2 separate regions of the Homo sapiens genome follow, and region 2 is linked to region 1. The links come from fine-mapping of genetic effects on gene expression. A gene starts in region 1. The other region holds a variant in brackets. All regions are shown on one strand. Distances are between the middles of the regions.

Region 1 (16,051 bases):
ATTTTATTAAATTATACACTTAAATATGTGCAGTTTATTGTTATGTCAATTACGCATTAATAAAGCTGTTGAAGCCAAAATAATTCCTCCCAAAACTTGAATATTTTAGGCTGGTCTGACACGGTGTCACTGGTGTCATGATATCAGCTACATTTTTTTGTTTCTATACTTTTAACTACATTTCACATTCTAACAGGCCTAGCATAGCATGTGCTAAAGTAGCACAAGTTTTATTAAATTAGGCTTAGCAGGCATAAAATCTGAAAATACAGAATTTTGCAGACCTAGAGAGTTATTGAAAGTTTTTGAACATCTGAGTGAGTAAAATATTCTGAGTTTCTATTTAATCGACCAGGAAATAATGTGAACAATGAATTGAGATCAAGAAAAGATGAAATAGTGTCTTTCTAAGGATAATGTTCAAAATGTTAGTATAATAATCCAGGGAAAATAAGAGAATAGAATTTCTGCTGCCTAATGTTGGCTTTGGAAATAAAGTGTAGGGAAAAAGATTCAAGAGATCCTGTGGAGTTGATAATGCTGAGATTTGTAAATTCATTGTTTGTTGGGGAATAATAAAGGACTCATCGAAGGCCACTGGGATGTGTCAAGCCTAGATGAACTGGAACAAGGCTGAGCCTGTAAAGTATATAGGTTTCACGAGAGCATGGGTTTGTGAAGCATTCTACAAATGAAAGGAAAAGGGGGGAATATGTTGGACTAATTTTTGTAGGTTTGGGAGTTGTCTGCCATGAGATCAAAGCTGAAATAATGATATGGATAAAAACAGTCAAGGAAGAAATTCTAGAAAGAGAGAGATGAAAAGAGAAGAAATGATGCTTTATTTAGTAGGCAAATGGAGGACAAAGAGGAGGGAGAGACCAGTACAATGTTGTAGAAGCTAAGAGAACTGAAAGTTCAAGAAATAGATGTATTAAAGATTAAGAAATGTCATCAGGCTAGAAATAACAGAGAAAATTAAAGATGCTTTCAGTGAGAGGGATGAAAGAATTGATCAGCTCGTGGCAACTCAGAGTTGAGAGAGGTTTGTTAAGGCCCAGGATGACTGAGCTCACAAGTGAATGACTTGGAAGGAAGATGAAAATCCCAGTAATTGAAGAGCACTAACCTGGCCCTTTTTCTTTGAGACACCTTCAAATAATATTATTCGTATCATTCCTTGTTATAATGTGAAATTTTGCCTTAGCAATTTATTCATGATATTACAGGAAGAGAAACATTGTACTTTATGGAGAACCCTTCTTATTTTATTAACACCTACTTAAATAGTGACTGGAGAAATTAATATCACCCTGAGTTCCTAGGCAGGAAGAAACTCACTGGGTTTCAAATGAGTAAAAAGCAATACCATCAGATTAATGGACTAGGAATAGGCTCCATTACCTTCAGCTATTTTAATATCCTAGTACTCAACAAGAATGTGACTCCCTTGCCCTTGTCCATGTGATGTTGGTTAACGTCAGCAGAAGGACCTTATTGAGAACTGCCTCCCTACCCAGCCCCAGAAGCAACAGGAAATGGGTATGACCAGAGGGAACAGGAAGAGATTGTTTTCCTTTTGGAATGTAACTGCCGCCTCTACCAATAACCACTAGATAAGACAGGTGGACGATGCAAACAGACAACAACTCTCCTATAAGAATATAGTTAGTGTGATTGAGACAAAAGCAAGACAATCATATTGTTTAATGTTTTTGGAGCTATTTTTCAATTATATACAATATTGCACTAGTCAAATGGGCTCTCTTAACACTTTTATTTCTTTAATTTTTCTGGCCTAGTTTTAAAATTTATGGTGCATTAATGTGCATTGAATAAGCTTTTGTGAAATAACATCCTAAATCACTATACTTGAAAAGATTTCTTACATTAAAAGCATCTTGTGACAAGGAGCAGTTCGTTTCTTTAGGATTTGACTTTGAGATATTTTAAACAGTATAATGAAAGTATACACCAGAAGCCACTATGTACATACATCTGCATAAACAGATCAGGATGAGTTTTTAAAAGTGTTCTTTTTGCTTGGACTTAAAGGATCTAGGTAAATGCAATAATCTGACTTGGTAAGAATGCTTGTGGTAAGAATGACCAGCTGATGAAAAGGATTAAGAATGATGGGGTTCAAGATAAGCTTTATCTTTGCAAAAGGATTGGTACGGTATAAAGCATAAATAAATAAAGCATGGAACATAAAAGTCTAAAATTTAGATATTTCTATTTCACCTGGCACTTTTCCTGGAAGCATTAAGGATCCAAGAGAAGTTGGGAATTGATTACATTTTGAATATGATTTTTTCAAGTTAAGACATATACTTTCCCACTCAGGAGTTGCTTAGAAGACGCATTTCTTCACCTTGCTTGTCCTAGTTTTGATTATCTGGAATCCGCACCTCTGCCAAACATCAGAGTCAGAAAGAACCAGAGATTTAAAGGTTAATCATGCCAAAATTGAGCAGATGTCCCCCTGAGAAAAATCTGGGGTGTTTGGGTTTATTCCTGTGGCTGCTGCTGTGTAGTATTCAATACCCTGCTCTCGCCCCCAGAGTCAGGGCCACAGCTGTCCACAGGAAATGCATCAGAGAGGTCTAATGTGAATGAATCATATGCACATGTTCCTTGGTATGTGGTGATGGGCATACCAAGGGCTCAAAATCAGCCCTCCCTCCAGGCCAGAATTGGTTCCAGGCTTGTGAATGCAAACTATCCACACAAGTTGTGCTGTGAAACTACCCTCCTTTCCCGTTTCTCTGCGTATTGCCAGTAAAGGAATTTTAGTGTGTTGCTGGGATGAAACACATAATCATCTGGGAGACATGAGGGGATAAGCATATCTCTGTAACTGAGCTTAGTCACATCCTCATACGCGTAGCACGTGCAGCATGTTAGGGAGGGACTTTCCTGCCCGACCGTATCAGCACATGGAACAGTTTAGCCAGGGAATAGGCCCAATTCTATGTTTTGAAATTTAATTTTCAGTCACTCAGCTGTAGTCAATTGAAAAACTGCTTAGTGAGTGACTGTTTTCAAATAATCATTTGGTAATTATAGGGTATTTTTTCTTGAATGAAATTTGGAGGTATAATATTTCTGAGTCGTATTTCTCCCATCATCACAATTAATTATTGCATTTGGCATGTAACAAATATTTAGATGTTTTACCAAATTGTCAGGAGTGGCAAATATCTCATTGTATGACAGTAATGCTACAATTTCAACAAGATGTCCATCATCCTATCCACAACTCACCACCACCACCACTATCAAATGTTCCCTATCTCAATGAAGTGACAGATCTATCCAGTTGCCTGATACTGTAGGAGTCATTCTGGATTCTTTCTACTTTACTTTCAATATGAAAAAGTCGCTAAGTCCTATGGATTTTACCTCAAAAATCTCTCCAATTGCCTTAGATCACTTATTTATTTTTAAAATATCTCTCATAAGAATCACTGTCGGCCGGGCGCGGTGGCTCACGCCTGTAATCCCAGCACTTTGGGAGGCCGAGGCGGGTGGATCATGAGGTCAGGAGATAGAGACCATCCTGGCTAACAAGGTGAAACCCCGTCTCTACTAAAAATACAAGAAATTAGCCGGGCGCGGTGGCGGGCGCCTGTAGTCCCAGCTACTGGGGAGGCTGAGGCAGGAGAATGGCATGAACCCGGGAAGCGGAGCTTGCAGTGAGCCGAGATTGCGCCACTGCAGTCCGCAGTCCGGCCTGGGCGACAGAGCGAGACTCCGTCTCAAAAAAAAAAAAAAAAAAAAAAAAAGAATCACTGTCCTAGCCCTTTAACAGATCTCCTTGCCTCCATCCTTTCCCATCCTCCTCATTCCCATCAATGCAACACAGGCATTATAACGGACACTCCGACTTTATTGCTCCACTGCACAAAATTCCACCATGCCAAAAAGAGTAAACACTTTTCCATCACATGCAAATCTACTGTAAATGCTTGTTTGCATTTTTCTTACCCACTAAACTGTGGATTCCCTGATTACATAATCATTACATCTTCTGTTTTCTTTGTATCTATAATATTCTACACAGAGTTTTCTTGCTTTTTCATTCAACATTATTTTTCTCATTTGCTTAGCTGCAACTGGTTATTTTGTATTCTGTGTAGTTTAGCTGCAGTTGGTTTGTTTGTTTGGTTGGTTGGTTTGTTGGTTTGTTTAGGGCAGTTGGTTATTTTGTATTCTGTGCAGTATTCTATTTTATGAATGTATTACAGTTATCTATCCATTCTCCTATCAATGGACTTTTGTATTGTTTCTACTTTTTTGAAAATTATTATAGACCATGCTGCTACAGAATCTTGCACATATCTGCAGGTTTTTTCTGAGACTGCACCTAAAGGTAAATTTGTTGGGCTGTAAGTCATGTGTTTCTTTAAAAATTCTGGATAATATAAATGTTTTCTAAAATTGTTTACCAAAGTTTACCAAAGTTTAGTTTTTTAAAAACTATGTTGGCCTCTCAAAACTTTTATTAGCCTATAAAATGTAATGTTTAGAGTTATCGTTTCCTTGGAAATCAATAGGATCTCTGCTGGAAAAAGTTCATTTGCATGGTTTTAAACAAGAATCATTTGTATTGTTATGTTTCCTACAAATTACTAAACTAATCCATTTTTATCACTACCGGTTTCCAACAAGGGCAAATTTTTCCGAGTTGTGGAATAGCTTGGTCAATGAAAAGTCAACCGAAGGTGCATATCCCAATAGAATCACATAATCTCTGGAGGATCTACTAGCCAGGGATCTGCAAACTACAACCAGTCAGCTAAATCCAATAGAGGTCAGTGGCCCATTTCCGAGCCTACAAGTTAAAAATGATCTTACATTTTTAAGAACAAACAGACATTAAAATGAAGAATAAATAGAAACGACCACAGCACAGGAGATGTGCAGTCTCATTAATTAATAAGTAAATGCCAGCTAAAACTCCAAATAAAACCAAGTCTTACTCACCTGACTTCTTATACACCACTAATAGAAATATCAATTTAGACACTAATCAGTGCATGAAGTCTACTAAGCCTTGTGCACCACATTAATTTGCTGTAAATAGAATGTTTTAAACAATAGTAGTGGGTAATAATAAAACACAATGACATTAATTTTAGAAAAGAGTATCAATTTGTACAATCTGCCAGAAGAGGAAAAAAAAGTGTCCTTGTAAAGAACAAAACCAATTATTGGCTGTCTTTTCAGTAGAATTCTGGCCATTTATTATCTGTATCAAGCCAGATAATAAATGTTTTAGGCTTTAAGGATGATTTAAGTCTCTGTTGCATATTCTTTTCTTGCCTTTTTTTTTACAATGCTTTTTTAAGGATATATCTATATATTTATACCAATGCCTATCTGTCTATCTATCTATAGGACTGTAGATGGGTCTTTTAAGGTTGTGTTTTCTCATGTTTTTCTCTTGTAAAAACGCAATTAATTTTTTAATATTGATCTTTTATCCAACAATCATATTACTGTCTTATAAATATGAGTAATATTTTGTAGATTACTTTGGTTTTTCAGTATTGATGATCATACTACATAATTTACCAATATTTAATTAGTTATTTCTTCTTTTCTATTGACTTCTCTTCATCTCTCCTTCCTTTTCCTCTCTCTCTCTCTCTCTCTTTTCCAACTACACCATCCAGGCCTTCTAACACAATACTTACTACTGAACTCATATTTAATTTTAATTTGAAGGTAAAAGAAAACTATCTCTGGTCATTTTTATGTACTACTGCATTCAGTTTACTTTCTTAGGATTTGTTGTTTTCTTTTTCTAACTTTCTAAGTTATATGCTCACCTCATTAAATTTTAGCTTTTTCACTCCAAAATAAAATTATTTAAGGCTACAAATTTTCTGCTATTGATAGATACCTCAATTGACATATATTGATAAGAAATATTTTTATTGCATTCAGTTATAGGTTTCTTCACTTCCGTTATGATTTGCTCTTGCTCTTTGATTTATGTGTGTGTGTGTGTTTCCTTTCTTTCTTTCTTTTTTTTTTGAGACAGAGTCTCACTCTGTCACCCAGGCTGGAGTGCAGTGGCATGACCTCAGCTCACTGCAATCTCCGCTTCCCACATTCAAGCGATTCTCCTACCTCAGCCTCCTGAGTAGCTGGGATTACAAGCACGTGCCACGACACCCATCAGATTTTTGTATTTTTAGCAGAGGGGAGGTTTCTCCATGTTGGCCAGGCTGGTCTCGAACTCCTGACCTCAAGTGATCCTCCCGCCTCAGCTTCCCAAAGTGCTGGGATTACAGGCATGAGTTACCACACCTGGCCAATTTATGTGTTATTTTAAGGTGTTTGTGTGCATTGTTTAACAATTTCTAGATATATATGTGGTTTTATATTTATTTAATCATGTTAAGGTCCAAAAATGTGTTATGAAAAGTCTTTGAGATTCACTGTAGCTTATTTAATAGTTTGGCATATAATCAATGTTTATAAATATTCCATAGGTGCTTAAAAAAATATACAGTCTCCAATTCTTGGGTGAAATGTTCTATATATTTCTATTGGATTATCTTTTAATATTGTTATCCAGATCTTCTATATCCTTACTGATTTGTGCACTTGACATATCAAATATTGAGAAAGGTGTATTAAAATCACCCATTAACATGGGTGATTTTACCCTTTTAATTCTTATATTATTTTTTGTAGTATTTACTTAAAATTTATGATACTAGATGTAATCAAGCTTAGAATTTTATCAATGTTATCAGCCTGCTGAATTGATTAATCTCTTTTTTTGGTAAAATTTTAGTTTTATTACAACTTTACTATACCAGCAATCCTTCACTTATATTTGTTTGATATATTTTTTGAACTATTTTACTTTCAACTATGCTATAGCCTTATGTTTTAAGTGTGTCTCTTTTAAACAGAAGACAGCTGAATTTTGTTTATTTGTTTGTTTTATGCCAATCTGTGTCTTCTAACTGGAGAATTTGGTCCAATTATATTTATTGCAATTAATATATTTTGATTTATTTCTAGCATTTTATGTTATACTTCCTATATGTTCTTCTCTAATACTTTTTATTTTTCTGTCCTCCTTTAGATTGACTTATGTTTAATTTTGTTTTTTCTTTCTGCAAAACTTGACCTTATGCACTCTATTTTTATCTTTTTTGTGGTTGTATTAGTACTTTTTACATACATAATTAACCTAATAAAGTCTAAAGTATATAATTAATCAATATCATTATCCTTCTTTCCAACAACATAAGTAAGGACTTCATTTTATTTATTTAGCCAGGGTCTCACTATGTTGCTCAGGCTGGTCTCAAACTTGGGCTCAAGTGATTTTCCTGCCTCAGCCTCCTGAGTAGCTGGGACTACAGGTGCACACCACCAGGCCTGATTGAGTAAAGACTTCAGAGTGCTTTAATTCTAATTAAACTCTCCCAGCTTACACACCCCGTTGTCTGGTTTTTTAGTTGATCTTTTTTATCACCATTCTTTTATTTTTGTTAATGTTTGCTTAGATTTATTTATGTTGTTACTATATTCTTTGCTTATCATTCTTTCTCACATATCAGATCTTCCATAAACTATTATTTTGCTTCCTAAATTCATTCTCAAGAAGTTCCTTTGGTTACAGTCAGTGGTGGGAAGTTTTTCAATTTTTATTTTGAACAGTCTAGCTTGGACTACTTTACCATAGATCTTTAACTTGGAAATACTCAGGCTACACAATTAGTATAAATTCTATTCCTACATCCATTTGAAGTCTGGCCAAATCATGAATTCTTACAGAAAGTTTTTGTTGTAAGTTTACCAGCCTGAGTCAGGACTGAAAAAAGCAAGTATATCTATGTTTCTTGTGGAAGAGTAGGGGTGAGGAGTCGGAGTTGGGGCTGAGTTTCATTTTTTGTTAGCCCACATTTTCACTTTGCCCTGGACTACACTTTGTATGAAGTCCCTTGGCACTTGCAAGTCCTGTTAAAGTGAAAGCTCTAGGTCGCTTAAGTCCAGTGAGGCCTCTTGAAATGGATAGATACCACCAGGACAGCTACTGTTTTCAGCACTCACATATCCTTCTTGATTTTTTTGTCGGTATTACAAGAAAGACATCTTGATCCAGACCCCAAAAGAGGGTTCTTGGACCTCTTGCAAGAAAGAATTCAGAATGAATCCATAAAGTGAAATCAAGTTTATTAGGAAAGTAAAGGAATAAAGAATGGCTACTCTATAGGCACAGCAGCAGCATAGGCGGCTTGACTGAGTAAACTTACAGTTATTTCTTCATTATATGCCAAACAAGGGGTAGATTATTCATGAGTTTTCAGGGAAAGGGGCAGAGATTTCCTGGAACTGAGGGTCCCTCCCCTTTTTAAACTATATAGGTTAACTTCTGGATGTTGCTATAGCATTTGTAAACTGTCATAGCACTGGTGGTAGTGTCTTTTAGCATGCTAATACATTAAAATTTACATATAATGAGCAGTGAGGACCACCAGCGGTCACTTTCATGGCCATCTTGGTTTTGGTAGGTTTTGGCTGGCTTCTTTACAGTATCCTGTTTCATCAGCACAGTCTTTCTGACCTATACCTTGTGCCAACCGACCTCCTACATCATCGTATGACTAAGAAGGTCTCACCTCCTGGGAATTCAGCCCAGCAGGTCTCAGCCTTATTTTACCCGGCCCCTATTCAAGATGGAGTTGCTCTGGTCCAAATGCCTCTGACAGCTCTCTTTGTTTTTGGCTTCTAAGATTTTCTTTTACTTGCCTGCTGGCTCAATGGTGCATATAAAAATGCACTATAGCATTTTTAAAGGACTTAAAAAAATTCATCAAGCATTTGTGTCACACACAGTGGTTTTTAAGGATCCATTCTGCAAACTGCTAGAACCAATGCATTCCATTCTTAATAACTTATGTATGGCCACCAGGAGGGCTACTTTCTCCTCCATTCCTATAAGTGGCCAAACTGAGTGATCTTGGACCACCTCAGTAAGCCTCAGTTGTCTAAATTTACTTACTGTAAATAGTTGGGGACTCTTTAAGATCCCTTAAAAAAATTATCTCAAACTTGCACAAACTTCTGGGAGGAGATTTAGCATTCTTGATTTAAAAACAAACAAACAAACAACAACAACAAAAACCCTAAGTTTCTAATCAACTTTAATGAAATCAAGATATTGTAAGGGAGATGTGGGTAGTCCAAGCTACTTAAGAGGCTGAGGCTGAAGGATTGCTTGAGCCCAGAGTTAGAGACCAGCCTGGGCAACACAGTCAGACCCTCATCTAAACAAAAAAAAACGAACAACAGCAACAACAACAAAAAACAGAAAGAAAAGAGAAAAAGAAAAAAATATTTGTTCTGGGAAACCAGTTACCAATCCATACTGTCGACTATCAGCTGAAAGTCAGAGTCTAAAATTAACTCTAAGTAGGCATTTTTTTTTTCTTTTGTCATACATTTTAAGTAAATCCTTTTTTTTCCTTTAAAAGAGTCCTCACCGCCAGGCATGATTGCTAACACCTGTAATTCCAGCACTTTGGGAGACCGAGGTGTGTAGATCACTTGAGGCCAGGAGTTTGAGACCAGCCTGGCCAATATGGAGAAACCCCGAAAGTAAAAGTACACACACACACACACACACACACACACACACACGCAAGCAAAATTAGCTCGGTGTGGTGGTGCGTGCCTGTATTTCCAGTTGCTCAGGAGGCTGAGGCAGGAGAATCGCTTGAACCCAGGAGGCAGAGATCACACCACTGCACTCCAGCCTGGGCGACAGCACGAGACTCTGTAGGAAAAAAAAATTCCAGTTGAGATGCTTTCCAGGGCGCTAGTCAAGCCCCGCATGCTTATTTGTGGGAGTGAAAACACCAATATTTCGGGATTGTTGTGAGGACTAAATAGTGTCTGTAAGATGCACAGAGAAAGCGTAAATAGACGTCAATAGCACTTGTTAGGTCTACACACTCCATTTTTCCTCTATATTAATCGAATTATTTAAAGATTGGTTAGCTTTTTGGGGAAATGTCTCTCCATTGTATTCCACTTATTAGGATGAACTACCTTTTCTCCTTGCTTTTCAGCTTTCTCTGCTATGAAAAAGATGGAAAATTTTTTAGCACAAGGGGACTCTTCTCAAGCAGCAAATCATTTTGATATTAAAAACAGATAATTGCAAACCCAGTTTTATTTCAGTATGAATTCCGCAGTGGAGTGTGAATATGTGTGTGTATGTGTGTGTGTGTGTGTGTGTGTGTGTGTGTGTAATTACCTGTGATTCAAAAGAGGAAAGGGATCAGTATTAAAGGTACTTGTACACTGGAAGCAAAAAAAAAAGGAAGTTTAGTTCCTCTGAGCTCCTTGGCAATTATAGCTGCTAAAGGTAGCTTTTACAAAGAAACTGCCTTTGTGCCTAAAGTATTTATTTCCTTGTTTGTATTTACCCCTTTGAGGAGGAATCGCTGTGTCTTGAGTGAAAGGGGTACGCTGCTTGCTTGCATTAAACTGTGAGGGTCCAGGCGCATTACGGCTGATTTCAGTAGGTAGAGCAGACACACTTTAGTTTATTTTTCTCTTTCTCACTCCCCACCCTCAACCTCCGATGTACACACGTTTTAAGATTCCCTGAAGTCAGGAGGTGGGAGCGGAGAGTTTCAGTTCAGATCTTGACATGAGAGTACTTCGACCAAGGAAAAGAAAGGGAAGAAAGAGGGAAGCGGGGTGGAGAAAGCAGGAGCAAGGAAGGAAAGAAGGAAACGGGGAGGGAGAGTAAGAAAAAAGAAAACGAAGGAGGGAGGGAGAGAGGACATTTAAATGAAGAAGGAAGGAAGCTTGGATTCAGGGAGGAAAGGGAGCGGGAAAGAGAGCGAAAGAAGAGCGTGAGAAGAGGCAAGCATTATAGTCTCCGGTCCACAGGGGAGAGATGGAGCCCCCTCAGGACTAGAGAATCCCGAAGAGCCCGTGTATTGTTTTCTTGAAAGCCCCGAAGCTAAGCAATTCTAAAAATGTTTAGCAAAGCCCTTTTGGGAATGGTGAGATGGGGGGTGGGGAGGATGGGACATTTTCATTGCCACCGCCCGCCCCCCGTCTCCCCGGCCCCCTCACATGAAGTGACTGGATTTGGGAGACCTAGCGGAAACCTTCAGGTCACCCAGGGAACTGCTCCTCTCTCTGGTCCTGCAGCGGCGAGGCGGGGTAGGGGGTGGGGGGGGTGGGCCGTGAGAGCGCCGAGACGCGCGGGGCGCGGAGATGTGCAAGTGGCGAAGCTTGACCGAGAGCAGGCTGGAGCAGCCGCCCAACTCCTGGCGCGGGATCTGCTGAGGGGTCACGGTGAGTCTCTGTGGGTGCGGGTCGGAGGGATGCCCAGGTGCCTCGTCGCCCCACGGCCCGGGCGGAGGCGGGTCCGGAACCTCCCCCAAGTCCGGCCTCAGCCTGGAGCCCGCGCGCCTTGGGCGGATGCACGGACTGAGAGGCGCTTGGCTGGGCTCTCAGCCCGCCACTGCCACCCGGCCCCGTGCGCTCATTGGTCGGGATGTGTCGGCTCAGCAGCCTCCAACTTCTCCCGAATCCCACTGGTGAGTCCCAGGAGAGCGAGCTGAGGGAGAAAGGTCCAAAGGGCGCGAGCGCCCAGGGCGCTGGGAGCCCGTGGGACGGGCACGGGGAGGGCAGAGCCAGCCGAGGGGAGCGGCTGCCGGGAGGTGCGCTGAGCAGGGTCCGCAGCTAAGGTCCAGCGCGATCCGAGCGCCCAGGACCCTGCGGCCGTGGAGGAGGCGTGCCCTGGGAAGGAGCCGCTACTGGGACCTGAAGAGTGAGGGGAGGGAGAGGGGCCCAGAGGGTGACCTGGAGGAGGGCTCTGGAAGTCACGTCAGGTTGGCTCTTCAGGTTCATTTCCATAGTTCCCTGCGGCCTCTGCCTTGGGGAGTTATGTTTTGTTACCGAGATCCGCGCTACCAGATTGCACCGGGGCTGATTTGGGGGCTGGGAATTTGCCATTCTGCTGTACAGACACTGATTTTTTTTTCTTCTTTTTAAAAAGCAAGGTTTGTTTTCATTTTGGTTTCTGTCGGATTTTCTCATTTGTAACTCACTTTTCTATTTTTACTTTTCTTAACCGGAAGATCTTTTCATTATCCCACCTCTTCATCTTGCTTTTAACCTGATTTCCTATTATATAATTAATGCTTAAATCTCACAAGGGTTGGTCGGTGCGGGGCTGGTGTGTCCTTTTGTAGATGAAAGTTTAAGACCTCTTAACTGGTTTCAGTCTATTTGTCTGGTTTCAAAATAAGGGTAATTGCAACCAAATATCCCTCTTTAGCTTCTCGATCAAGTCGATTCCTCCCCCATATATGATTCAAATGGCAATTTTATTAAACTGAAAACTAGTACCTGACTTGCAGCGTCAGCATTTGGAAAGTGCTTGTCGGCAAATCGACTGTATGAAGGCGTGTAGCTTCATCCCCTGCCATTTTTGTGGGTTCTAGCACTTTAAAAAATTGTCTGGTAATTTCTTGGACTTAACCCTGTGTCTTTGGTTGTAGAGCAGCACTAACCAGGGGAGTAATATGGTTGGCACTTCGTGTCCAGAACTCCGTATTTCAGGCTGGGAAACACCTAATTAATGTCTGGGAAACAAGAAGATGATTTATCCTGAGTACCTCTGTCCTCAGCTTCTGCAGACACAGTTTAAATATGGAAACTGTTTCTCCTTCTTCCTGTGCCTCAGTTTCCATAGAACAAACTGTAATTGCATAGCACAGCTTCAGGAACCTGCAGATATAAGTTAATGTTATAATGTGCAGTGAAGATGAAAACTGCTTAGCTAAGTCTAAGTCTGTAAGTCAATGAGATTTCCTTTTTAACAAATCAGTTATCCAGGTTTCCTGCTTTGACTGTCTGATATAGTAATGCTTATGCTCAACTGGTATAAGAATTGCTGCTTTACATTGCTTTGAAATTAAGCTTACACTTAAAATAGTAATTTATTCTGTTGGTAATATTGTCGAGCTGAAGTTTGCAGGTTCTTGTTATCTTAGACCTCCTAATTCTCTATTCTCGTCTGTGGCAGTGTCCACTTTTCCGTTTAAACTTTTTATTTAACACATCTTCAGTTGAAGTGAAATATTTTAAGAATACAGGTATGTTTTTGCGTACCCTGCTTTATATGGGACTATAAGCCTCAACTTGGTATTTTTTTTTTTTTTGTATTCTTTTGTTTACTTGTCCCCCTTACTCTTCTCTATGGGATTGGGTGTGGTTAAGTTGGATATTCAGGTATTTGGGGTTTAGTCATATGTTCCACAGTGAGATTCCAGATACTGTCCCCTGATGTCTTAAAGAAAAATTGTGAACCTTCCAGAATTAACTGGAAATGAACGACAAAGTTAATTAGGAGATTAAACTTGCATCATTTCTGCTTTTGCTCAATGCTTTTGAAAAAAGGCTACTAAGAGCAAAAGACTTCCTTTAAGAATTTACAGGGCATTTACAAGAGGGGGAGATGGAGGAAGACTTTGCAGGTGATTCAAAGATTATATTGTTTTGATGCAGCTTCTGTCACTGTCTTCATTTCTCTGTAACTGTTTCTGCAAACTTGGGTGCTGACCCATTAAGAGCCCAGCTGCTTCAGTACCCAGTCTCAAGGGTAAGGAGGAGAAGCCAAGGGAAAGTAACTTACAGGGAGAAAGAAATGCTTATCCACTAGCTTTACTACACCACAAGGCATGGAGTTTCCACAGAGCACCTGTAATTTAACCCTGAGGCTGCCCTGGTTCACCCCTTCGCTTTACTTTACAGGGACACTGACTGTCATTTCTAAGGAAGAACTAAGAAAAAAAAAAGTCCTTTTATACCAGTAAAACATTTCTCTACATTGTCTTCTGACATATGCGGGGGGAACAATATTCAGGAAAGGGAAATACTTTAGCAAATGTGCTTAACATTCAGGTGTTCTTTAGGACAGTCATGAAACATGGGGAGACTGGGAGAATTATTATTGTTTACCTCTCTGTAAAGTGTCCAGAGTATTATTAAATTTGTTCCCCTCTTTCCTTTGCCCAACCAATACACTATTAAAATAGGACTACAATCAATGCAATTCCATATCATAACCCCAGGGGTGGTGAGACTAAGCCAGCATGCCTTACATAACCATTAAGTAAGACATTTTAACATTCAGGTACATTACATTCCACTTTTATTTAGCAGACACGGTTTTCATTGTGTAATAAAATATTTTTATTTGATAGTCTGTCCTTGCTTATAGCCTCATGTAATCAAGGGGACAGCATGTTTAAGACTTTGTATCCAGAACTTTAAGGTCTAGCTGTGGTTCGCTTATTAATAATTCACTGGGAAGGTTAATTTCTAGTTTTCTGCTGGGTCTCCCAGACCATACTTCAAATGTAGAATATGTTTCTTCTTTCTCCTATGCCTCAGTTTCCACAAAACACACCCTTAGAGAATTGTGTGTGTTCAACAAAGATCTTTAACTATAAGAGCATTTCTGAGCCGCCACTTCATCCTGGGACCAAATTCTAAGAGCAATTTGTATTGAGCTATAAACAGCTAATCTGCTAGTTTAAGATGTTCTTTTATACAGTCATGCAGAAAAATGGAAATTGTGTGTTCTAATCCTTGGAGACTGGCTGATAAAGTGTCACTAGGCCCCTGATGAAATTTAATATTTAGGCTTATATCCCCTTAATTTTCCCCCTAAATTTCTACAGTACGCTTTTACTGCATGATGATACAGCTTTATTTTGAACAGTGACCAAATGTGTTCTTTACAAAGAATATTGACGAGTTGTGTAGTCTTGAACACGTTGCCTGACTTCTCTGTGCCCCAGTTTCCTAATTCTTTATTCTATTCTGTGGCAGTGTCCACTTTTTGGTTTAAAGTTTTTAACACATCTCCAGTTGAGGTGAAAGATTTTAGGAATACAGGTATGTTTTTGCATACCCTGCTTTATACAGGACTACAAGTATCAACTTGGTAACTTTTTGTACTATTTTGTTTACTTATCCCCCTTACTCCCCTCTTAAATGGGATTGGGCGTGGTTAGGTTGGATATTCAGGTATCTTTTGGTACAGTGAGTGACCATTTTCAGAATGTTGTCTAACCAGTTAATAGATACTGGTATCAGTAGTAGTAGTAATTTTGAACTGTAAAAATAAAGGTTGTTTTTATGACTAAAATAAACTACTTCATGTGTTCATTCGTTTTGCTGTTTATCTATATTAATATTTCAAATTATTGCTTAGTCAAAACCTCAAGGTATTAGTCACTGGTTTTTGAGCTTATAAAGGAAGCCACTGGAGCAAGATATAAAATTAACCATTGATGTTAGTCCAGAGTTCAAAAGGGTGAGTTTAAAACTTTCTTAATGATGGTACAGCAATTATTTGCTTATAAACTGCTGAATTAATCCTACTTGAGTATTTAACCAAGTCTTACTGTCTAATTTTGCTGAGATTTTCAGTGATATACCAAAGCAAAACAAAACAAAACAACAGCAACAAAAAACAAAAGGTTGTGACTGAGACCTGTCAAATTCATTTGGCTCTATATACTTTGCATTCAGCAACAAAATTTTGACTTCTCAACAGCAAAAATGTATTTCTATTTTAAAATAACTGAGCCTTTTACTTTTATCCAGCCACATTAAGCATTTGGACATTTTCTTTTTTATTTATTTGTTTTTCATTATTAGTATTTTCATTTTTTGCAGATTTTAGGTGATGGGCAAGTCAGAAAGTCAGATGGATATAACTGATATCAACACTCCAAAGCCAAAGAAGAAACAGCGATGGACTCCACTGGAGATCAGCCTCTCGGTCCTTGTCCTGCTCCTCACCATCATAGCTGTGACAATGATCGCACTCTATGCAACCTACGATGGTGAGTTACTCCCACACCTGTGCATCCATAAGTGCAAAAGAGAAGGAAATCTTCCTCCATGCTTTTACCATCTATCCAACGAATGTGTTAAGGATAGAGGCACTTAAAGACTGACAAAGAGATTCATT
Region 2 (16,051 bases), 100 kb before region 1:
ACTTTCATTGTCTGTTTCAAGTTGAAAGAGGTGAAGTGATTTACCCATGGTGTTTAAAAGTAATAAAATTATATCTTTTTAAAACAAAATGTATTTAATTCTTTGCAACACTACAGGCTAGCCTTCTTTTCAAGGCCACAAAAATTGTGGCTTTTATATGCTGTGAGGCTCAGAAAGGTTGCCAAGTATTCAACTCTAAAGCTTGAGGTCCTCAAAGAGAATGGGCAGTTTAGTGCAGAGGCCAAAGCCAGGAGAGCTGGATAGACAATCTATCACAGCCCTGTCATATCACCGGGGGACCGAGACTCTCTAGGGAAAAAGGGTTGCTGCCCTTGGGAAGAACTCTTTAGTTATATTGATTATATTTACCAAACCAAATATTGTGACATGCAATCTAAGCAGATCTGTGTACAATACATAGAATGTTTGAATCTAATGCCAACTTAGAAAATCTGGGGCTAACATTTGCAATATTCATAGGAGAACAAATTAGTTTGCATACTCTTCCATAGTTGAGTGAAGTGTCCCACAAAACTTCTCATCCTTTCCAACACTATTTGATTTTATTGATTCCAAATTTTAGTTCAGTTTTGAGGTGTCTTAATACTCCTCAAAGGATCCTCATATTTTGAATTTGTTCTGATATCTAGGAGATATTATCTTAGAGATGGATTATGAACGTATCTACTTTGAGTTTCATTAGGGCTGAATCACAGTTTCAGAGGAGAAAAAGCCAGAAGGTTCTTCTCAACTCTGAGATTCTATGGTTCTGTGATTCAATCCTTTGGAGCCTAATGACCCCAGTTTGAACTGATATACACTGGTAGGTGAAGTGATAGGACAGAGGAATGGATGCTGGAAACTGATGACAGAAGTCTGAAGTCCTCCTATGACACTTGGCCTCATGAAATGGAAAAGACTTCTACTTTCTTACCTCAAAAGTCTGCTAGAGAAGTTAGCTACTGTGTATGGGTAATTGCCCCCACTCTGGACTCTAAACCTCTACCTAGGCCACACCCTATTTCTAGAAAACTGTTATCATCACCAGATCATCAAGGTTATCTCCTTTCTTCCCTTACACAGTCTTTAGAATCCACTCCCACCATGTTGCCTCTCCTAAGCAACAAGAGGGCAAGTAGCATACCTGCCCTGGGTTTTGTGTCCTAGGTAAATTACTTATTTACTCTGCATATACATGGTCTCAATGAGCAAAGATGTGTTGTGTCCAGTTTCTATTTCTGAGCATGTAATTGAAAACATATCAAACTGGGCCTCAGCAAAATTTGGAGGTGGAAAGTATGGGTCAAATTGGTCACATTTTCTGGGTGAGAGGACCATGAGCTAAGTTACATTAAAAGGCCTGGTAATCAGTTTCAAGGCATTCAACATTCAATAGAGAAACTGCAAGAAAGTGGGGAAAGTCATACATATTTTAAAAATTACCTTTATCTTTTACTCAGACAACCCCTAAATTGTCAACCAACTAAATATACTATACATTGAAACACACTTGATACTCAAAGTGTGGCCCATGGACCAGCAGCATCTCTCAGGAGATTGTCAAAGTGCAGAATCTTCCCTTGAGCCCAGGAGTTCAAGGTAACAGTGAGCCATGATCATGCCACTGTACTCCAGCCTGGACAACAGAGCAAGACTCTGTTTCAAAAAAAAAAAAGCAGAATCTTGAGCACCACCCAGGACCTACTGGATCTGAATCTGTATCTTCAAAAGATACCTAAGTGATTGGTATGTGACTTAAATCTTGTAAAAGACCTTCCAAGACCAGCAATCCTCAAAGTGTGCTCTCCAGACTAGAAGCATCAATTGGCATCAACTGAAAACTTATTAAAAATGCAGAACCATGTGCCCATTCCAGACCTACTCAGTCTAAAATTTTGGAGTAAGGACCAGTAATCTGTGAATCTGTGTTTGGTTTTTTTGGTTTTTTTGTTTGTTTGTTTGTTTGTTTGTTTGTTTGTTTTTTAGACAGAGTCTGTCTCTGTCATCCTGGCTGGAATGCAGTGGCACAATCTTAACTCACTGCAACCTCCGCCCACCGGGTTCAAGTGATTCTCCTGCCTCCACCTCCCCAGTAGCTGGGACTACAGGCGCCCGCCACCGCACGTGGCTAATTTTTGTATTTTTAGTAGAGACGGGGTTTCGCCATGTTGGTCATGCTGGTCTCGAACTCCTGACCTGGGCCTTCCAAAGTGCTAGGATTCCAGGTGTGAGCCACAGCACCTGGCCTCAGTAATCCGTGTTTTAACATACCCTCAGTGATTCTGATATATCCTCAATTTGGAGAATTTCTGCCTCTGGCCTTTTTCAATTTATATTAAAGAAGAACCATCTTTTGACAAAAGTTAATTTAATTCTAAATGTTTCAAGTGACTAAGAGAAAAATATACCTGTCTGGACAATTTTTAAAATATTGTGACAATGCCCACCAGTATTTTCCAAAGATATATCCTTATGATTTTATTTATGCACTAGTCAGAATTGATGAATGTGTATGTTGAATACCATTTGCTAATTCATCTGGCATCTGGCAAAACCATATCACATTAATATGATGGATGATCCTGCTTCTTTGGAATGAGAAAACTTCCACATGGAGGCACAGTAATTATTCCTGAAGGAATGAACATAATGTAAACTGTCATTATGGGTAAGTTTTGTGGGCAAAGGATGCCCAGGAGAAAGGCATTATGTTAAGCCTTTATTCTCAGCAATGGTGCTCTGCAGCCTTGCTCCCACTTAAAGTCATTATCAGAGCTGCCTAGACCTTTCTGCCCTTTGTGGCTTTGGGCTTCATTTAGCGGGTTATGGGATGTTTCAAACCTCTACTTAACGCATTTGAAATATTTTCTACTTTGAAACTTTTTCTCCCTTGAAAGGCAAGGTAGCTATTAGCATCAAGAAGAAACCAAAATGAGCACAACAAATACACAAGTGTCTTTCACAAATGTAGCTTTGCCCAGATGAATTTTTAAAGGTATTTTATGAAGAATGTTAAAATACATGAAGTTATTTTCTAAGTCAACCCACCTAGCAATTTTATTTCTAGAAATGTATATTAAAATATATCCCCAGATGAATATATAGACATATGTACAAGAACATTCATTACAGCATAGATTGCTGAAAACAAGCAAAATGTCCACAGTCACAAGGAGTAACCAACCAGAGCAAGTTCCCCTGGGGAGGCCTCTGGTGTGTGCCAGGAACCAGCTCTTTAGTTTCCAGATTATGAGAGAAACAAGTGTATCAGTCTCCTAGGGATGCCATAATCAAATACTGCAGACTGGGTGGCTTAAACAACAGAAATTTATTTTCTCACAGTTCTGGAGGTTAGAAGTCCAAGACCAAGGTGTCCACAGGTTTGATCTCCCCTCAGGACTCCCTCCTCGGCTTGCAGACAGCTGCCTTCTGACTGTATCCTCTTACGACCCTTCCTCTGTTGGTACACATCCCTGGTGTCTCTTCCTCTTCTTATAAGGATATCAGTCATATTGGATTAGGATATGTCCCTAACGGCCTCATTTTAACCTCTTTAAGACCTATCTCCAAATATGTTCACATTCTGAGGTCTTGGGGAATGGAATTTTAACATACAAAATTTGGGGATACCATTCAATCCACAACAACCAGTCAGTCTTAGAGAGTAGCTGGGTCATAGAGGGTTATTTACTAAATGGTTCAGAAGTACTTTAATATTTTCAAAACTGGTACAGTTTTCAGTAAGTAGTGGCTGATTATTAACCCTGGCATGGGCTCTGAAACAATTGTAAAAACATGTGAAAAACCTTAAAGGTTAGAGGAGCCCCTTCAGGGACCTCCAAGATTGAAGATTGAGGCTAAGTAGGTGGGCTCGGAGACTATTTCTGGAATTTAGTTGTTTTACATCTAATAGACCAAATAATGTGCTGTGGTTATAAATATAGGATTTGGAATCAGAAAGAGTTTGCATTTCTGTTTCCTACCTGTAAAATAAAAATGATAATAGTACCTATCCCTAAGATTGTAAGCAATAAGATAATGATATAAAATGTTGATGATATGCCAGACTCAAAGTAGATACTCAATAAACAAGACATTATTGTACCTTTATATAAGCTTACTTTTCTAAATAGTCTTACACACATGCAAACACACAAACACACACACACACACAGTGTTCCTTATAACAAACTGTACTAGGCCTCTAAAGACACTTTTAGTTCTAGAACTCTTATTCTAAGTGATACTTGGCCACAAGTGATTCACAATAAAGGATTGAAATTTTTAAACACATTTATTGCTTTTATTATAAAAATAAATTGTGCTTTCCTACTGTATGGGAATTCTACTTTTAGCAGTCACATTGCTTGATTTAACTGGCAAGTATTAAAATAACAGTGTAGTGCTCACCTGATAAAACATTGTAACTTCTGTTAGATTACTTTTTATATGGTTATATTAGTAAACTGCCATTTATGTATTACAAATTGAATTAAGTAATATGTAATCATTAGAATAATGAAATATGTATTTTGCGTACCAATATGGAATAAACTTAAAGATGTATTAGTGATGAAAGCAAAGTACACAGAAATACTCAAGAGTATATGTTTTTTAAAAATAGGTTTTTATATTGTTTAAATTTTTACCATGTGTATGAATTACCTTTTGAAAAAAATAGATTTTCTCTCACAGTAAAATATAAAAGGAGAGAACAGATGCTCAAGATTCCATTTTCAAACAGAAATCGCAATCAACAGCACCAGTAGCAGCTGCTATTTATCTGTATTTGATAAGAGCAAAGCAACAGATAAAAATGAAAAATAAACTAAATGAAAAAGGCATCTACAGAGATCAAATTCCAGGCGACTCCCTTCCCACTTGCCTTTGTTGTAAGTTCCAGAATAGTTTCTCAGCACTAAGAAATTCTCTGATTTAATGGAAACAACAAAGGATGTGGCATCAGACTGAGCTGGGTTCCAATTCTACTCTTCTGACTTTCTAGCTCTGCAAACACAGAAAAATCCTTTTACCCTCTGAACCTCATTTTCATCAGCACACAAGCATCAAAATGTCTGTCCTTCCACCACTTAGAGTGGTTTTGAGGCTTAACTGAAATTACATGTATACAAGTGCAAGGCAAACAATATAGACCAATATGCACCTTTATCTCATTCATAAATTTCTATTTAGCTTGTGGGATACAGATACACATTCATTAATTCATTCAACAATAACAAATAGACCCTTCTAAATACTGGAACTAAAATAGATAGCAGAACACATTCATTCTCTGCCCTTTTGAAGCATAGACTCTCGTAGAAAGATAGAAGACAGAACAGACATCCATCACATTAAATTGTGGCAAATGCTATGATACAGATAGATAGGATACCCTAGAAATGCATATAAGGCACATATACTCACCAAAGATGTCTGGGAAGGCTTCTGGAGGAAGTCATGTTCAAGTGAGGCCTGATGAAAGAGTAGGAGTTCACTAAGTGACCCAGGGGAATGTCGTAGGCTTCCCACTGGCTTGGCTGACCCCTGAAAGATAAAACCTGACAGGTGAACAGTGCAAGTTGAGGGCTCTCAAAGCAGCTCCCCTTGCATTTGACTTGTTACAGCCAATCTCTTCCATTCCTCTCATGAAAGTAGTTGTTGGACACAATTAAGAAATGTGACAACGGCAGCTCAGAGAAAAGAAGTTGAAGGTCACATAGCTACTGAGTGGCAAAGCCAAGATTTTGATTGTCCCAAACATTTGAAACACTCAACTGATGGAATTTTTTATTTTTATTTATTTTTTATTAATATATATTGATCAGTGGAGTGTGTCTTATTATATTGAAATTCTGACTCAGCACTGGGTATGTCTAGGATTTCAGCCACACTGCAATACATAGAAGAGTGCTTGGTGCATAATAAGTATTCAGTAAATATCTCTTGAATGAATTAATAAATCCCAAGTTTGAAGGATCACTTAGAGGCATCCTTTGTCTTTTGAATAATTAATTCATGCTGCCATCCTTGAATTGAAATTAAAGCATTTTAAAGGTCTTAGGGAACTTCAGAATCCTCCCAAACCAGGGTGTTTTGAAACTGGATTGGATCTTATTTCTTTCTACAAAATGCTAAGGAGGCATCACGGCATGTAAAGCCAACTCCATCAAGAAGTCCACTTGGGCTCTGAGATGTGTGAGAAATGACACTGCACAAGAGTCCAACTGAATAGTTCGGGAAATAGGCCAAAGGATTAAAAACAGTATCATGTAAGGATTAGGAATTTAGCTTAAGACATGGCTCCCTAGTATAACGTCAACATGACTCATTCATTTTGAGTTGGCTGAAGAAATTTTAGATGCATTTTGAAAGATCATCTGGCTTTCCTCTTACAACATAGATTTGATCCTTGCACCATCCAAACCAAACAGTCTAATGCATTGAAAAATGTGCCTGAGAAGGAAAAACAGAATCATCATTACTTTTTCTTTTTCCTTTTACCTGAAACCTAGGTGTGAGGTTCTTGAGAAATTAGTCTTATTACATTGACCAAACACTAATGCTTTCTGGAAAACTTTGTTCTTCTGGAATTGCACAGAGTATACTTTTAAACATGGCATCTGCATCTTAGATGCCCTATTTTAAGTCTGATTAATCTAATCCGGGGAGGTAAATTAGGCCCTTTAGTAGTCTATTAACTTTCTCCTACCCCGAACGGAAAATTTATTAAATTATCTTTATGTGTTCCAAGAAAGCAAACTTTGAAACTGGCCAGCAAGCTTGTAAGAGCCTAATGACGATCGCGGCATGAGTTTCCATCAGCTTTTGGTGTTATTTTAATACAATCCAAATGTAGACTTAAGCTATTAGTGTGTACTCACGTTCTCTCTCTCCCTGTGCTTGTCTCTTTCTCTTCCTTAAAGTACAAACACATGCACACACTGCCACTTTCTCTTTCTCAACACACACAGGCTTGAATAATTTCTATTTATTTCTCAGTTCTACTTTCCTCTCAGAATTCCTTTCCTGACCCCCAAATCTAGGTTCAGGTGTTCCACTAATGCACTCTTACTGCAACAGCTAACTTGTCCATCTCTACACTAGTCTGCAGACAATATGACGGGGACTGTTTTTGTAATTGACCTCTGTATCCCCTGGGCCCTGGCAAAGTACCTAGTATGTGGAAAGCACTCAATACAATTTTGTTAAATAAGGAAATGAATGAGTGCATTAATCTAGCCCTTGTATGCTTAGATCTGCCAAAAGACAAAGCTACAACAAATTTATCTTAAAGATCTCAATTGGCTTTATTGCATTTTTAGAATTGGGCAACACTTCATTCCATAAAATAGAATAAGTGTTCCAATAAGCTGAGTGGAAGGGTTTGGTTTTATAGACGGAGAAGAACTGAAGAAAGCAGAAATGTAGAACAAAATGTGACTGGTCATTTCAAAGCTATTTCCCTTGTAAGGCAGGAACAGGGAAACAATAGAGAAATAACTGATTGCTTAATATCAGGTTACTTCAGGTTACCTTCCCTTTAAAGATTAAAGGCAGAGGGAACTTCATTATCCTGTAGATTGAAACCAGTCTGTTTGGGAAATTAAGCTGTTATCTCTCCTTTTGGGCTTCTCCAAAGGTTAGATAACCACTCAGTTTTGGTTTGGTAATGTGGAACCACAGCGTGAGCGACTCCGTTTTGATTTTTAGTCTGATCTGTTGGGGTCTAGTGTAGGAGTGTAGCTCAAAACAATGGCCTCCTATAATTTTTTATTTACCAGAAATAAAAGGAAATATACAAATGTAATCCATTCCTTGATGATCCTCTATCAAGAAGTAAGTCTTTAATTTCCCCAGTTAAAAAAACAATTCATCTTCCTAGAACCTCTGGAATGAACAGTTTTAGACCCCAAAGTAAAAAATACATACAGTCAAGCTAACTCTGTTTAATTAAATGTTTTCCGTAAGTATTGAAAAACAACTTTTGAGCAATGTGAATAGCTATTGTGTACAAAAGTTAGGTAGAATATAATATTATCCTTATTTTTCAGCAATTATATATTTACAATATATACTTGTTTCACAAAACAAGAGAGAAACAGGCAGATTTTTTTTACTCCCAGTTTAGTGGCTCTTCAATACAACATGCCACTAACAAAAAGGTATTAGAAAGAACCAAAAGAAAATTCAAAATTCAGAAATGGCACAAAAAGATGATCTTTGTTGTAAACAAGAAAATAACAGAAGCCAATTTCTACAAGTATGCACTAAAACATATAGGGAAAATACCTTACATCATAATTTAGTCCCTAGGACCAATTTTGAAAGTCAAAACTTCATTTTATACCTCTGCATTTCACAAGATCACATACCAAGGAACATATGAGGTCTTCAATTCTTGGGAACTAAGTCTGTGGTTTACCGCCCAAGGTCTCTCCCAGGTTTTTGTTATCACTGGCAACAGAACCACTGTTGGAAGCCCACTGCAGAATTAAGAATTCACACAATCTGAAACTGCTTATGTCAGGCCTTTCATAAGGGTGAAAATAATATTCAACAACTTTCAGCATGTGCTTACCACATCTGCACCCATTTTGGGTCAATCAGAAAAAAAAAATGCTGGAAAGAAATAAGCCACCCATTCAGAAGTAAAAACAGGGAAAGCCAGCTGCATACAAACCCTGCAGATTGTGCTGATGAGATCCATGGATGGGCAGAAAGAGCTGCTTCAGGAAAAGAAAATCTAACTTCTGAGCAAAAAGGCTCAGAACATAGATAGGACAAAAATGCTCTCCATTAAATGCAATTCCTAAGAATTCAGGGAATGTGTTTTATTCTATCCCAACAGTAATCACAAAATAGTCTTTCTTTCTCATATGTACTGATTGATTCATTGATTGATTGTACCCCCTCATCATGTTTTTTATTGAAAGAAATATGGAGAAGCACAAAGAAGTAAAGATTTTAAACAATCACTCACTATCTCATCACTCAGTAATATCTGTTATATGTCCACTGATGGCTAAAATCTCACCCACAATTCCTCACGGCCATCAATAAATTAGAGAGAGAACTTTTTCTATTAAACTTTCTTCCAAAGAATTCATGTCAGTTCTTTCTACAATCAAACTTCTCTTTCAGTATGAGTTTTTAATCAGCAA[A/G]ACAAAACTCAAGATAGAATCTAGTGTATTCCATAGTTGTTCAAATTGTTTACAGCTTAAGTTTCTCGCCTTTGCACTGAGTGAATTGAGACACAAGTATGCTGGAATAGGAATAGATCTGAATGTTTAGAGGGGTCCAAGCTCACACTGGTGTCTCAGAGATATGAGGGAGATAGTTGAGTCCCAAGGCATACCTCCAGGGTCTAAATGATGAATCACCTCACGTCTGCAATTGATCTGCCTTCTTTGCTGTTTGCTCATTAGGTTAGAGTTCCAGGTTTAATTCTGGCATAAACCAGTTACTTTTCTCTTTCCCAAAGGCCACAGAGAGCAACATTAACTGGTTGTCTCTCAAAAGGTGCCATTCATTAATGAAGAGATTGGGAACGATCATCTAGATGCATTTGTACAAAATAATCCAGGTAGGAAATGGACTCTTCTGATGGTTATTCCATCTCAGGCACATTATCTACATTACATAATGTACTCCTAAGAGTAGAATAATTGTTATTATTATTAGATGAGAAAATGAGATGCAGGGAGATTAGTAACTAATGCAAGACAATACTGCTGATAGAATCAGGATTTAAGACTCCAAATCCATGCTTTTCCCACTATATTACCTTACCTGGCTGGGGAGAACAAACCTCAAATATACCTATTTGATGATAAATGTGTGAGAATATATATATATACACACACAAACATATATATATACACATATATATATATAAAGTAGGTATATTGTGTATGTATATCTCACAGTGACTCCAAATTTTTATTTTTATTTTTATTTTTTGGAGACAGGCTTGCTCTATCTCCCAGGCTGGAGTACAGTGGTGCAATCTCGGCTCACTGCAACCTCTGCCCCGTGGATTCAAGTGATTCTCCTGCCTCAGCCACCCAAGTAGCTGGGATTATAAGTGCACGCTACCACACCTGGCTAATTTTTGTATTTTTAGTAGAGACGGGGTTTACCATGTTGGCCAGGCTGATCTCGAACTCCTGACCTGAAGTGATCTGCCTGCCTCAGCCTCCCAAAGTGCTGAGATTACAGTTGTGAGCCACCATGCCCAGCCGACTCCAAAATTCTTAAGGTCCTATAGTACCAAAGTCAAAATTCCCAGGGAATTTTTAGTAAAACACATCAATCTCATATCTCTATGTTATTTATGTAAAAATGGCACCTCTATTTATATGGTTTTCATGATAATTAAACAAGAGAGTGGCGATGTGATGTATACACTATAAAGCACCATGAACACATAAAACATTATTGTTTGAAAAGTCTTTGAGGCCTTAGTTAACAACAACAACAAAAAAAACTCTGCAAACAATAAATCAATCAGTATTGACAGTGAAGTTCAAAAATGTTTATATTTCTTCTAAACTATCTGGTGAACATGCCTTTTAAATCCTTGTTCAAGTCACTCAATCCATAACAATTTATGGAATCCTTTTGTATTTTGACAATAAGTCTATACACATACAAACCCATTTTCCTTTTGTGAGATTTCCGTAAGTCATCTGTCTCTAAACCTATCTAGGAATGGAAGTAGAATGTATCCAGCAGTTCAAGTTGTCATTAGTCATTGCTATGTGATGTGGGATAATGCCTACTCCAATCTCTCTACAAGCTAAGAAGAAAATCGTTTTCTACATTCTCCTTGCTGGACCTCTGGATGCACAGAGGGAGAGCAGACATGACTGGCCTGGTCAATAGAAATATTTACTTACCTGATGGCATGAATAGCCAAATGAGCTAAAATTGGCCATGAAAACTGGTTTCTATGAATAATACTAATACATTTCCTGGATCAAAACTCTAAAAGGCTGAGCTTTATAAGGGATAACTGACATTTCCTTAAAAATTGCTCAACATGACATGTACTGAACCTGTCAAACTGCTGGGAAAATTACAGAAAATAAATTTTAGGGTGATTGGCAAAATGGCTTTGGGAAAATGATTTATTATTTCCAATAAGGAATGAGAAGGTGAAAAATGAGATGTAAAAAGACAAAGAGAAGAACAAGAAAGGAAAATGGAAAAGAAGAAAAGAGAGAGAAAGAATGAATCCCATGCCAACTTAATTCGACCATCCACTATCGTATGCAAAGGCCCAAGTAAGGTACTTGGGAGGCTACAAAGAAAAATAAAATGCATCCATGCAACAAATTCAACAATTATTTATGGAGCTAGGAAAGAAGCAACTATCTAATATGCCACAGCAACTGGAAATATATCTAAGATTACCTGAATGAAAAGTAAATCAGAAGTGTACTTGAAAAGTAATCTGTTTATTTAAACAATTGTTAAAAGACGATATTTTCTTAAAGAAGCAATCTTGGTCTTTTCCTGAAACAGAACTGGGTGATGGCTGTTACTTGTGTCTAATCAGATTGGCCCAGAACCACCATGCACAGAGAACATTTCATCATCTTTTAGCAGGGCCAACGTCATATAGACAATTTAGTGGGGATAGTAACTTTCCAGGGGTTTTCTGATTTTAGCATCATACAGCGCAGGGATAAATGAGCTGTAGTTTCCCACATTTAAGTTCTAAATTCAGCTATGTCACTAATTACCCTTGAGATAATTACAGTAGATGACCCAGCATTTATTTTTTATCTTAACAAGATTTTGACTCAATACATAGTATTTTCAAATATTATTTTGAAAAAAAATCTCTGAAATAATTATATAATGAACATTCAATTCTTAGATCTTTCTACTTTGAATAAGTAAATATAAATGTATTTCAGTTAAAAGGCTTAAGAGTAGGATGAGTCAAGAATAACGATAGTCATGAATCACTTAAGAACAAGGATACATTCTGAGAAATGTATTATTAGGTGATTTTGTTGATGTAAAAACATCATAGAGTATACTTACACAAACCTAGATGGTATAGCCTAAGACACACCTAGGCTATATGGTTATATGGCTATATTGCCCCTTAGCTATAAACCTATACAGCATGTTACTATACTGAATACTCCAGGCAATTGTAACACAATGATAACTATTTGATAACTATTTGTGTATCTAATTGTATCTACACATATGAAAGGTACAGTAAAAATACCATAATCTTATGGGACCATAGTTGTATATGTGGTTCATTGTTTGTCAAAATGCGATTAGTGGCACTTGACTGTTTTGTGAACATGAAAGAGCAACTGGCCTACAAAACTTCATTAAATTGTTCCTATATCTTCTTGACCATATCCAAAAATCTCCCAGCTAAGCTTCAAATTTAAGTGTATGCATTGTTTTAAAGAATTGCTGCTGGGTGCAGCGGCTCATGCCCGTAATCCCAGAACTTCAGGAGGCTGAGGTGGGTGGATCATCTGAGGTCAGGAGTTCAAGATCAGCCTGGCCAACATGATGAAACCCTGTCTCTACTAAAAATACAAAAATTAGCTGGGCATGGTGGCACACGCCAGTAATTCCAGCTACTAGGCAGACTGAGGCAGGAGAATTGCTTGAACCCGGGAGGGGGAAGTTGCAGCGAGTCAAGATTGCGCCACTGCACTCCAGCCTGATGACAGAGCAAGATTCCATCTCAAAAAAAAAAAAAAAAAAAGAATCAGGCCGGGCGCGCTGGCTCATACCTGTAATCCCAGCACTTTGGGAGGCCAAGACGGGCAGATCACGAGGTCAGGAGTTGGAGACCAGCCTGGCCAACACAGTGAAACCCTGTCTCTACTAAAAATACAAAAAATTAGTAGGGCGTGGTGGTTGACACACCTGTAATCACAGCTACTCAGGAGGCTGAGGCAGGAGAATCACTTGAACCCAGGAGGCGGAGGTTACAGTAAGCCAAGATTGCACCATTGCACTCCAGCCTCAGTGACAGAGTAAGACTCTGTCTCAAAAAAAAAAAAAAAAAGAAAAAAAGAATCACTACTATAAAACCACAGGAGTAATATCAAAAAAATGAAGCTGCTCTTATGCACTGGTTTCCAAATGAAGCATACAGCTATATTTTGGCTGAACAAAGTTCAAATGTTTCTGACTTTATTTCTGCCAAGATTTATTCAAAACATGTTTCTAGTGCTGCTGGGAAAGAAATTGTATCTGGAAAAGACAATAACTAGCACTATAAATAATGAATAAATGAGTACAAATTCCCAGGAAACACCTCAAATTATTCTCTGTAAATCAAAAAGACGTGTGGTTGAATTCATAACATGTATATTTTAACTTGCTTCATTAAAAAGCATATTTTCTCTAATGGTAAATATGTATACAGACTCTAAGTATGCTTATCTAGTCCTCCATGCCCACTCAGCAATATGGAGAGAAAGGAAATTCCTAACTTCCAAGGGAACACCTATCAAATATCAGGAAGCCATTAGGAGATTATTATTGGCTGTACAGAAACCTAAAGAGTTGGCAGTTTTACACTGCTGGGGTCATCAGAAAGGAAAGGAAAGGGAAATAGAAGGGAACCGCCAAGCGGATATTGAAGTAAAAAGAGCCGCAAGGCAGGACCCTCCATTAGAAATGCTTATAGAAGGACCCCTAGTATGTGGTAATCCCTTCTGGGAAACCAAGCCCCAGTACTCAGCAGGAAAAATAGAATAGGGAACCTCACGAGGACATAGTTTCCTTCGCTCAGGATGGCTAGCCACCGAAGAAGGGAAAATACTTTTGCCTGCAGCTAACCAATGGAAATTACTTAAAACCCTTCTCCAAGCCTTTCACTTAGGCATTGATAGCACCCATCAGAGGGCCAAATCATTATTTACAAGACCAGGCCTTTTCAAAACTATCAAGCAGATAGTCAGGGCCTGTGAAGTGTGCCAAAGAAATAATCCCCTGCGCTGCAGGCCATACATTTCAATCCCTGTATCTTTAACCTCCTTGTTAAGTTTGTCTCTTCCAGAATCGAAGCTGTAAAACTACAAATAGTTCTTCAAATGGAGCCCCAGATGTAGTCCATGACTAAGATCTACCACAGACCCCTAGACCAGCCTGCTAGCCTGTGCTCTGATGTTAATGACATCGAAAGCACCCCTCCTGAGGAAATCTCAACTGCACAACCCCTACTATGCCCCAGTTCAGCAGGAAGCAGTTAGAGCGGTAGTCGGCCAACCTCCCCAACTGCACTTGAGTTTTTCCTGTTGAGAGCGGGGACTGAGAGACAAGACTAGCTGGATTTCCTAGGCCGACTAAAAATCCCTAAGCCTAGCTGGGAAGGTGACCGTGTCCACCTTTAAACACGGGGCTTGCAACTTAGCTCACACCCAAACCAATCAGAGAGCTCACTAAAATGCTAATTAGACAAAAACAGGAGGTAAAGAAATAGCCAATCATCTATCACCTGAGAGCACAGCAGGAGGGACAATGACCGGGATATAAACCCAAGCATTTGAGCCAGCAATGGCAAACCCCTTTGGGTCTCCTGCCTTTGTATGGGAGCTCTGTTTTCACTCTATTAAATCTTGCAACTGCAAAAAAAAAAAAAAAAAAAAAAAAAAAACCAAAAACATTTTCTCAAAAAATGCTTTATACAGTCTAAATGATCACTTTAGTTCAATGTTATTTGTATCTAACATCAGTTATGTGATATCAGCTTATGTTTTTCTAAATATCAAAGGGAACAAAATGTTATTTCAAGGGTTAAAACAAAAGCAGAATTTGCCCAGATCCGCCATGCACAGAGAGCATACATCACATGGTAACAGGGCCAACATTACATAGATTACAAAGATCCTCTTTATGCACGAAGAGAGAGGGGAAGTGAATTATTGTAGAAATGGTTTCTGTTAATTAAAGAACTTTTTTTATTATTAATTATTTATTTTTTTTGAGATGGAGTGTCGCTCTTGTTGCCCAGGCAGAAGGACAATGGTGCAACCTCGGCTCACCACAGCCTCCGCCTCCTGGGTTCAAGCAATTCTCCTGCCTCAGCCTCCTGAGCAGCTGGGATTACAATCAAATGTAGAATTAAATAATCAAAAAAAGGATTGAGCCTTTCCATTTTATAGCAAGCTATATGACAGCTACCAAATATTCTAGAGCAAATACATCTTGGAGAAATAAGGAATGGAGGGTCTATTTGTCCCCTTGTGTGGGCTTTAACCACATAGAAAGCCCAGTTTCTCATTTAATCTAATACATTTGCACCCAACAAACCCCACAACCTTGGAGGCAGATCAAGAACTTACTACTATCACCCCTCTAGAAATTTGAGCATCACTCCAGTCTCCCAGTAAGTTTTCTCAAGAGGAAAAAGAGAAAATATTAAATACCAACATAATCACCTGTAAAGGCTGTTTGTTTGTTTGTTTGTTTGAGAAGGAGTCTAGATCTGTCACCAGGCTGGAGTTCAATGGTGCGATCTCAGCTCACTGCAACCTCCGCCTCCCAGGTTCAACCGATTCTCCTGACTCACCCTCCTGAGTAGCTGGGATTACAGGCATGCACTCCCACACAGAGCTTAGTTTTGTATTTTTAGTAGAGATGGGTTTCACCTTGTTAGCCAGAATGATCTCGATCTCCTGACCTCGTGATCCACCCACTTTGGCCTCCCAAAGTGCTGGGATTACAGGTGTGAGCCACCGTGCCCAGCCAAGGCTATGTTTTTAATCAAGTTTTTAATCACTTTAAATAACAGATAATAGCCTTATTTGGATTATGATGATGATAGCAGAATGTTTTGTGGGATATTTTTGACTATTTTACTTTTTAAATGGGTCTGTTACAGTTTTATTTTAGTTTAATTCTCTTGAAATGTTTTTATGAAGCATCTCTTTTGTTCCAGGTACCATGAAAAGACACAGCCATTAACATATGTGTTCAACTAAACACAGAGCATTGACTTGAAACAGTACATGATCAGAATGAAGACAATACTATAAGGAACTACAGGGAGAAA

The links. PIP is the estimated chance that this variant, and not a neighbour inherited with it, causes the effect.
Region 2: its variant is fine-mapped to the expression of MME in whole blood (TOPMed, PIP above 0.99).

What each region holds. Positions count from the first base shown.
Region 1 is chr3:155,068,405-155,084,455 of GRCh38, forward strand. It overlaps MME (membrane metalloendopeptidase), which reads left to right and starts at 11,915. Exons shown (of 23, transcript NM_007289.4): 1 at 11,915-12,062; 2 at 15,754-15,923. The coding sequence starts at 15,764.
Region 2 is chr3:154,964,676-154,980,726 of GRCh38, forward strand. It overlaps LOC105374171 (a long non-coding RNA gene), which reads right to left and starts at 5,590. Exons shown (of 5, transcript XR_001740568.2): 1 at 5,428-5,590. The variant A/G (reference allele first, on the strand shown) is at 9,165.